3 separate regions of the Homo sapiens genome follow, and all the other regions are linked to region 1. The links come from fine-mapping of genetic effects on gene expression. A gene starts in region 1. Each other region holds a variant in brackets. All regions are shown on one strand. Distances are from middle to middle.

Evidence for each region.
Region 2: its variant is fine-mapped to the expression of FAM50B in blood mononuclear cells (TOPMed, PIP 0.91).
Region 3: its variant is fine-mapped to the expression of FAM50B in fibroblasts (GTEx, PIP 0.99).

What each region holds. Positions count from the first base shown.
Region 1 is chr6:3,848,013-3,850,773 of GRCh38, forward strand. FAM50B (family with sequence similarity 50 member B) reads left to right here and starts at 1,361. Exons shown (of 2, transcript NM_012135.3): 1 at 1,361-1,474; 2 at 1,777-2,761. The coding sequence starts at 1,800. LOC107986557 (a long non-coding RNA gene) reads right to left here and starts at 1,354. Exons shown (of 3, transcript XR_001743931.2): 1 at 1,304-1,354; 2 at 377-637. RefSeq lists a silencer at 1,035-1,154 and an enhancer at 1,425-1,544.
Region 2 is chr6:4,714,456-4,717,216 of GRCh38, forward strand. It overlaps a transcript of CDYL not described here. Among named protein-coding and RNA genes, the nearest start is that of CDYL-AS1, 60 kb to the right of the region's middle. The variant C/T (reference allele first, on the strand shown) is at 1,619.
Region 3 is chr6:3,874,745-3,877,505 of GRCh38, forward strand. No RefSeq gene overlaps it. Among named protein-coding and RNA genes, the nearest start is that of FAM50B, 27 kb to the left of the region's middle. The variant C/T (reference allele first, on the strand shown) is at 1,594.

The sequences.
Region 1 (2,761 bases):
GTGCCCCCAAACAATTACAATAACCTCACAGAACGATGATCACAGATCACCATAGCAGATATCACAATGAAAAAGTCTGAAATATTGCAAGAATTACCAAAATGTGACACAGGAACACGAAGTGAGCACATGCTGCTGGAAAAATGGAGCCAGTAGGCGCTTGACGCTGTGTTGCCACAAATCTTCAATTTGTAAAAACAAAAACAAAACACACAGTATCCCAGAGCTCAATAAAATAAGATATTCTTGTATTCTGGTGATGGGGCAACAATGAGAAGGCTTTAGATTAAAAAAAATGCTAATTTCCTAGATTAAGGCAAGTGGTGGGGAATGGGAGAAAAAGGAAAGTGTGAAAGGCTCTTCTGTAATTGATTACCTGTGGAGGAACGTCATTCCAGGAAAAGGCCTAGGTTTCTGGCTTGGACAATTTGATGAGGGCTCACACCGTGCTGTTCTCCTCTGGATATGTGGGTGCCATATGTAATTATCATATGATTCACGCTTCTTGGTAAGGTTATGCTCACAGGCATTGTTGCTCTTAGGCGGGAGGAGGCTGAACCGCAGTATGTATTTCACAACCAGCTTTTCCAAACTAGGTCCCAGGAAGCACTGGTTTCGGCGAGTGTTACCAGATCTCCTGCAGGGGAGAAACGGTCACGAAACATGAACTGGTCTGCCCTGCTCTTGGAGAGTTACAGTGGAAACTGGCATGTTAGAGGCTCACAGTAAAGACACTGCTACACTTTAACTCAGTGTCCCATGGTTATTAGAGCTTAGAACCCGGGGGAAACTGCTGTATAGAAGAGGTCAAACAAGCTGAGTGCAGGTTTTGTCACGAAACTGGGGGGCGAGTAGGGTTCTATTATCAAAGAATGGTTGTGTTGGGGCCATAAGAAAGAATTACAGGCAGTGGTGCGCAGGTAATGTTCACGAGACGCCACAGCGGGGTAGCATCAGAGGCGGGAGGAGGAGGGTTGGAGAGCAGGGCCGTGTTGCAAGGCTCTCTGGGTGGCCACAGCAGCTTGCGCTGCGCCCACATTGCTTCTGCGTGTTTACAGTTGGGCACGAGAAGGCTCAGCACGCACGCACAGCAGGTGGGGGCCCGCCCTGCCCACAGCGTGAAAACAGGAGCCCCGGCCAGCCACGGCTGGGCAGGGCCAGAAGCGCCTCCTCCAGGATCCTCCCCGCGCTGGCCCGCCCCACAGGAGCACCGCCCCTACCAGGAGCCCGGAGCTCTTCCCAGGGCCCGCCTCCCCGCCAGGGGGCGATCCACCTCCACTTCCTGTTTCCGCAGCCGCCCTACCAGGAGCCTGGCACTCTCCTCAGGGCCCGCCTCCCCGCCAGGGGGCGCACCGCCTCCACTTCCTGTGTCCACGGCTGTCGCGAGAGCCCGGGGCGAGTGGGCCTCTGCTCGTGGGTGGTTCTCGTGGAGGTCAGCTCCCGCGTGTCTCCGCTCGACAGGGTGCTTGGGCAGGTAAGGGTCCGCTCAGTAGCCCAACCCTCTCTGTATGCAGCTCCCCAAATTCAGCGCTGCGCTCAGGCATGGCAGCCACCCGTTACGTGGGGCCGTTCGCATTTGCATTTATTGAGGTCAAATAAAATGCTGGAAATTGGTGCCTGGTGACACTGTCAGGTTGGTGGTTACCCTAGCAGGTCGGCCCAGCCCCTGAACGCTTCCATCACTGCCGAAAGCCCTGTGAGGAGGCGCAGAGCTGAGCATTCCCCGCCGTTGCGTGGGCCCCCCTCTACCTGCCGCGTTTTTCCTCTTTGCTGCAGAGCCCATCGGGTAGGCGCGGGCCATGGCGCAGTACAAGGGCACCATGCGCGAGGCAGGCCGTGCCATGCACCTCCTCAAGAAGCGCGAAAGGCAGCGGGAGCAGATGGAGGTGCTGAAGCAGCGCATCGCCGAGGAGACCATCCTCAAGTCGCAGGTGGACAAGAGGTTCTCGGCGCATTACGACGCCGTGGAGGCCGAGCTGAAGTCCAGCACGGTGGGCCTGGTGACCCTGAACGACATGAAGGCCCGGCAGGAGGCCCTGGTCAGGGAGCGCGAGCGGCAGCTGGCCAAGCGCCAGCACCTGGAGGAGCAGCGGCTGCAGCAGGAGCGGCAGCGGGAGCAGGAGCAGCGGCGCGAGCGCAAGCGTAAGATCTCCTGCCTGTCCTTTGCACTAGACGACCTCGATGACCAGGCCGACGCGGCCGAGGCCAGGCGCGCCGGAAACCTGGGCAAGAACCCCGACGTGGACACCAGCTTCCTGCCAGACCGCGACCGCGAGGAGGAGGAGAACCGGCTCCGAGAGGAGCTGCGCCAAGAGTGGGAGGCGCAGCGCGAGAAAGTGAAGGACGAGGAGATGGAGGTCACCTTCAGCTACTGGGACGGCTCGGGCCACCGGCGCACGGTGCGGGTGCGCAAGGGCAACACGGTGCAGCAGTTCCTGAAGAAGGCGCTGCAGGGGCTGCGCAAGGACTTCCTGGAGCTGCGCTCCGCCGGCGTGGAGCAGCTCATGTTCATCAAGGAGGACCTCATCCTGCCGCACTACCACACCTTCTACGACTTCATCATCGCCAGGGCGAGGGGCAAGAGCGGGCCGCTCTTCAGCTTCGATGTGCACGATGACGTGCGCCTGCTCAGCGACGCCACCATGGAGAAGGACGAGTCGCACGCGGGCAAGGTGGTGCTGCGCAGCTGGTACGAGAAGAACAAGCACATCTTCCCCGCCAGCCGCTGGGAGGCCTATGACCCCGAGAAGAAGTGGGACAA
Region 2 (2,761 bases), 870 kb after region 1:
GAACAATGCTCAGTGCAATGCCTGGTATATAATAAGCTCTCAACAGAAACACATAATCATGGTTCAGGACACCAAAGAGCACCTGGGCCCCCATCACAGCACTGCTGCTGGCCAGCCCTGGATTGAAGCACCATGCTCCCAGGCTGCCAGCTTCTGCAGATTTCAGCTACCCTGAACATTCCCTGCCTTAAAGTCAGCTTCCAGAAGAGCACATTTGATCCCAAGTTAAATTGTGAAGTAGACGACCAGCTGCCATTCATATGGAGCCCAGTGTGGATGCGTAGGTAAGTTAGAGGATGAAGCGCTGCCTTCAGGGTCACACCAACAAACTTGAGGACTGACTACTACAGAATCCGTGAGTGTTCTGGCTGGTTTAGAGGCCTCGGTTATCCCAGTTGTCTGTATTGACAAGCAGCAATCTTGATGCGCCACCTGAGTGAGGGTTCCACTCAGCTGTAAATGACATGTTATAATAGTTTTAAATTTATATGTGACTTTTTCACTTTTGTGTCTTAAAAGCCAAAGGAAATGACCTCAGTTGTTTTTTATTTTTCCAAAACAAAGTCCAAAAGGTATAGACTTTCCAGCACCATCTCCAATGGCATGTTTCCATAAACCCTCTGCATAGGCACGCCCAACCACTCGCCACTCTGAAAATGCATCGTGCTTTCTCGTGCCTCTGTGCCTTGGGCTCTCACCCTCCCTACCTGAGAATGACTCACTTCCTTGTCTCCATTAAAGCATTTGGTTACTTCTTCCTGCTTTCAGACCTTTTGTATAAGACGTCAGTTATGTCTTCCTACCAGACTGTAGACCACATGAGGACAAGACGCGCCTCCTTGTCATCTGTGTCCACCAGTCTACTAGAAAAGCTGAAAAAAGGAAAGGGGATGGTCCTTAAGCTGTAATGCAGACACATTTTCATGACTGCAAATGATAGCCTTCCAACCTCATGATAAGTATCAGGCCACTTGGCTTACTTACTCTTCCATGTATTGTAATACGTCATTATAAATTGCAGGTAACCAACATATTGACATATATTGTGGTGAAGAAGAGCAAGTTTGACTACTTTAAACATTGCTTTTTATTCCTTATCATTTTAAATGTGTTGCTACTTTTGATGCACTGCTTACTGACATTTATTGCTTCCTCTGCACAAGCACAAAATGCTGGCTCACTCTCAGATTCAATGTAGAACTGGTGAAAGTCATTAAATGCCATGAGCCTTGGGTTTTTTCCCATGTACTGTAGTAAATTCCTCTTGTTGGGATTGTAATTGCAGGTGGTCATCAGAGAACACAGAGCCCCCGGAAGAATTTTATGACATTTCAGGCAAGCCACAGGTCAGCCTGGGGAAAAAGCAGGAAGAAAAACTGGCAATACGAGGGCCCAACCCAAAAGTTATTCCTGAAGAGAAACAACGGTAAGAACTTGCAGGAATCAAATTAGTTCTGATGCAGTAGGCAGAATTCTTAGAGAGGCCCCTTTTATTTAAAAATGATTTTACTGGCCGGGCACGGTGGCTCACGCCTATAATCCCAGCACTTTGGGAGGCCGAGGCGGGCGGATCATGAGGTCAGGAGATCGAGACCATCCTGGTTAACACGGTGAAACC[C/T]CGTCTCTACTAAAAATACAAAAAAATTAGCCTGGCGTGGTGTGGGTGCCTGTAGTCCCAGCTACTCGGGAGGCTGAGGCAGGAGAATGGCGTGAACCCGGGAGGCGGAGCTTGCAGTGAGCCCGAGATCGCGCCACTGTACTCCAGCCTGGGTGACAGCAAGACTCCATCTCAAAAAAAAAAAAAAAGACTTTACCAATATGTAGTCAGAAATTGTTCAACATAAGCTTTCTGGTATTCCAGTCATAATACTCTAGCTGTTCGGACAACGCCTTCTCTCTCGCAAGCTCTCCTCTTTTTTCATTCTCTTTAAATCTCCTATCTGGCTTCCCTAAATAAATTTTTTGTAGCCAGAACTTCCATTTCATTGCAGTGGTTAGTTTTGTGTCTCCCATTGCTCTTTAGTAACTTTTAATGACCTGAGACATCGTTGGCTTCCTTTCCTTTTCCACTTCCTCCAAGTCAATTGATAGCACACCCTACACTCTGTGTTTACAAGCGTCAGAGAAGGCAGCAATAATTTTTTTTTTTTTTTTTTTTGCCTCATCTTCACTAAGGGATGCCTGAATTCTTGACAGGGCCAGATAGAATGCAAAAGTGGTTTTCTACATTGCTAAGAAATAACAGGCAAGTCTAGATACCACGAGAGCTAGCAACCTGAAGAAGTCATCTGTTCATTCTTTCATTTATTTACCGTATACGGTGTTGGGTGCACAAAAAGCATGGAGCAAGGTGCTTCAGGGTGTTTAGCAATGAGCAAGACAAAGACACTGACAAGGAGCTTTCATTCTGCAAGCCGAAAAAGACAGGAGCTCAAATTGATACCATACAAGTAGCATGAAATAGGCACCCCAGAGAGGGACACAGCTATGGAAAAATCAAATGAGGGAAAGATTACATCTCATTGGGAAAGACTTGGTGGAGGTTCAGGTCAGTTCTGGGAATGATGAGTCTGAAGTCATTGGGGCATTCAAGGGAAGCATGAGCAGGCAGTGGGAACCTGGGACCACAATCAGGAAGAAAAGGGTGGGTAGGATATAAGGGGTCCAAAGTCACTTGGAAGAGGTTGTCGTGGCTGGAGCAGTGAGGGGCTCACACCTGAGACTCCAGTACTTTAAAGAGGCTGAGGCAGGAGGATCACTT
Region 3 (2,761 bases), 27 kb after region 1:
AATCAGACATACTTAGCTCTCTTTACAGAGTTAAAATAATATAAACAGGGAGGAAGAAAACTCCCTAGTGTTCTCAGGCAGGGTTATGACCAAATGCATTTAGTGCATAAGCAAGAAAGCTCCAGATCACCCTATGGGTCACACTTTCCTTCAGAAATTTTGCAAATTATGTTTCTGTTTGTTTGTTTGTTTGCTTAAGGATAATGTATCATCAAGATTAAATAATTTTTTTTTTTGAGATGAAGTCTCACTCTGTTGCCCAGGCTGGAGTGCAGTGGTGTGATCTTGGCTCACTGCAACCTCTGCCTCCCGGGTTCAAGCGATTCTCCTGCCCCAGCCTCCCGAGTAGCTGGGACTACAGGCGTGTGCCACCACGCCCAGCTAATTTTTTGTATTTGTAGTAGAGACAAGGTTTCACCATGTTAGCCAGGAGGGTCTCAATCTCCTGACCTTGTGATTCGCCTGCCTCGGCCTCCCAATGTGCTGGGATTACAGGTGTGAGCCATTGTGTCTGGCCAAGATTAAATAATTTTTAAAACAATACATTCCTCACCATTTTTCATATTACCTTCAACTTTTTCCAGTACTTCAATATTTAGCATAGTTATAAGCAGAGAATACCTACTTCTTATGTATTTTTTCATAAAAGTGTATAAAGTCTTGTGTTCCAAAATAGATTTCATAATTATAACTTTAATGATGGCATAATATTCCATGATCTTGATGTACCATCATTTACTAAACCATTTCCTTACTGTTGGACATCTGTTCTGTATGAATCAGGCTTTTAATAAGATATGACTTGAGAGAAGATCTAGAATATTGTCAACAGATGGCTTATGAAAGTGCCTTTGATATTATAGTACATCTATTTATGATTCTGTAGTAAATAAAATGTTAACTAGGACTGCTCCCAAATTGGGCAGTGATGTGGGTGGTGCACATACACACAGAATTTAAGGCACCTAGGGTGAGATATGAAATTCAACAGGATGAAATTCAAAATGTAAGTGAGAGAAAAAAGGCCGAATAGAGCCAGATACGCAGATAAAGATATTTTACTCAGTATCGTGTTAGAAATGCCGTGCTTCAGGAATTTAAGACTGCTGGATCCATCGTTCTATTTAGCTTTGAAATCTTGGTGTTTGAATGTGCTGTCCACATTTTATATCCTTTATACTGCTAGTCTTTCTCAGTTTCTCCCTAAGATTATTTTAAGTTCATATTCTGAAATTATAGGGATGAAAGGCAGGAAGGGAAAGTAGTGTGATAAGGGATTTTCCCCAGTTAGTTACAGAAAAAAAGAAATAGGGAATCGCAGGAGCAGATTTTGACTTATGGGATGGTGAAGGTACATGAAGCAGCTTGAAAAGGAATAGGAAAAAGGAAAGAACGATTTCTGTAGGCTGTGTTATTAGAAAGGAATAAAAGAGCTACATCTGCTACTTACACTTCATGCCAGACACATTCTCTGAGGCGTTGGGACTACATCTTGGCTCTTCAGGGCTAAAGTCTTCTTTTCCTAAGAACCAGATCTGCACCCCCGCCCACTGTTTCCAGTAAAGCAATGGGGCAAATCCCATCTCCCTGGAA[C/T]GTTCTGTTCCAGCAGCTGGAGTGACGAACTGCGGAATATCATTCACACGGAGTTGGCTCTGATAAGAACAAATGTTTCTTGGTTTATGGTCCCTCTCTTTGCTGATGATCCTGCTTGACTTTGCGTCCACTCTGAAAATTTGCCCAAGCTTTTATACGACGAGAAGGTACTATCTGCTAGAAAACATGTTTTGTAGAGCACTTTATTCTGAAACAGCCAGTGGCAGTTCATGCAACCATACAAAACCCAAGTCCCGGCTCCACGCAGGGCCATGCTGGGTCCTCATCCTAGGTCCTTTTAAATGTCTCTTGGAGAACATTTCTCTAATAGGAAATGCATACTTATTTCTCAGGGCTTTATCTGCACTGTTTAAATGACAGTTCTCTTCAACCACTACATTAAGAAAGTGATCAAATTCTATCATGCAAATGAATATACTTAATTATGTGGAAGTATATTTTAGTTACATATCAGTAATTACTCTAATAACAAATCAATAAGCTAGTAGATTTCCAAATAGGTTTTAAGATTTCTAAGGGGCAGACTGAAGGTGATTAAGTTCTCTTTACTAACATATATATACATCATGATATTATAATAGTGGTAAGTGTAAAATTGACCTAATTTCTGTGATTCATTTATTACTCAACAGATATTTGGGTATTTTTACTGAAATATATTTTGGTATTTGTTATGCCAGGCACTGTTCCAGGCAGGGAGATCTAGCAGGATGTAAAGGGCGGGGCCCTGCTCTCATGGAGCTCACGGTCTCGTGCAGGAAGATGGCTAATAAGTAAATGAGACATGATCAAGGTAATTATATATGTTTGCATTAAAACATCTTTTAATAGAGATTTAACATTATTTCATCTGGTCGTCTCAAAAACCCTGGAAGGTAGATTAAGAAGAGGTTACCAATGTATAGAAAAGTTGTAAGAACAGTACAAAAAGCTCTCTTTCCCCTTCACCTAGACTTCCCAATTGTTAATATTGTTTTCAACTGTGTAGTTAGTTGTTCATAATTGTTAATAACACTACATTGCTTCATCACCCTCTCTCTACATATACATATATATCAAATATATGTGTGTCAGTGTATGTATATATGTGTGTGTGTGTGTGTGTGTGTATAGTCAGGATATGTCACCTATCTCAAGCAATAGGTTG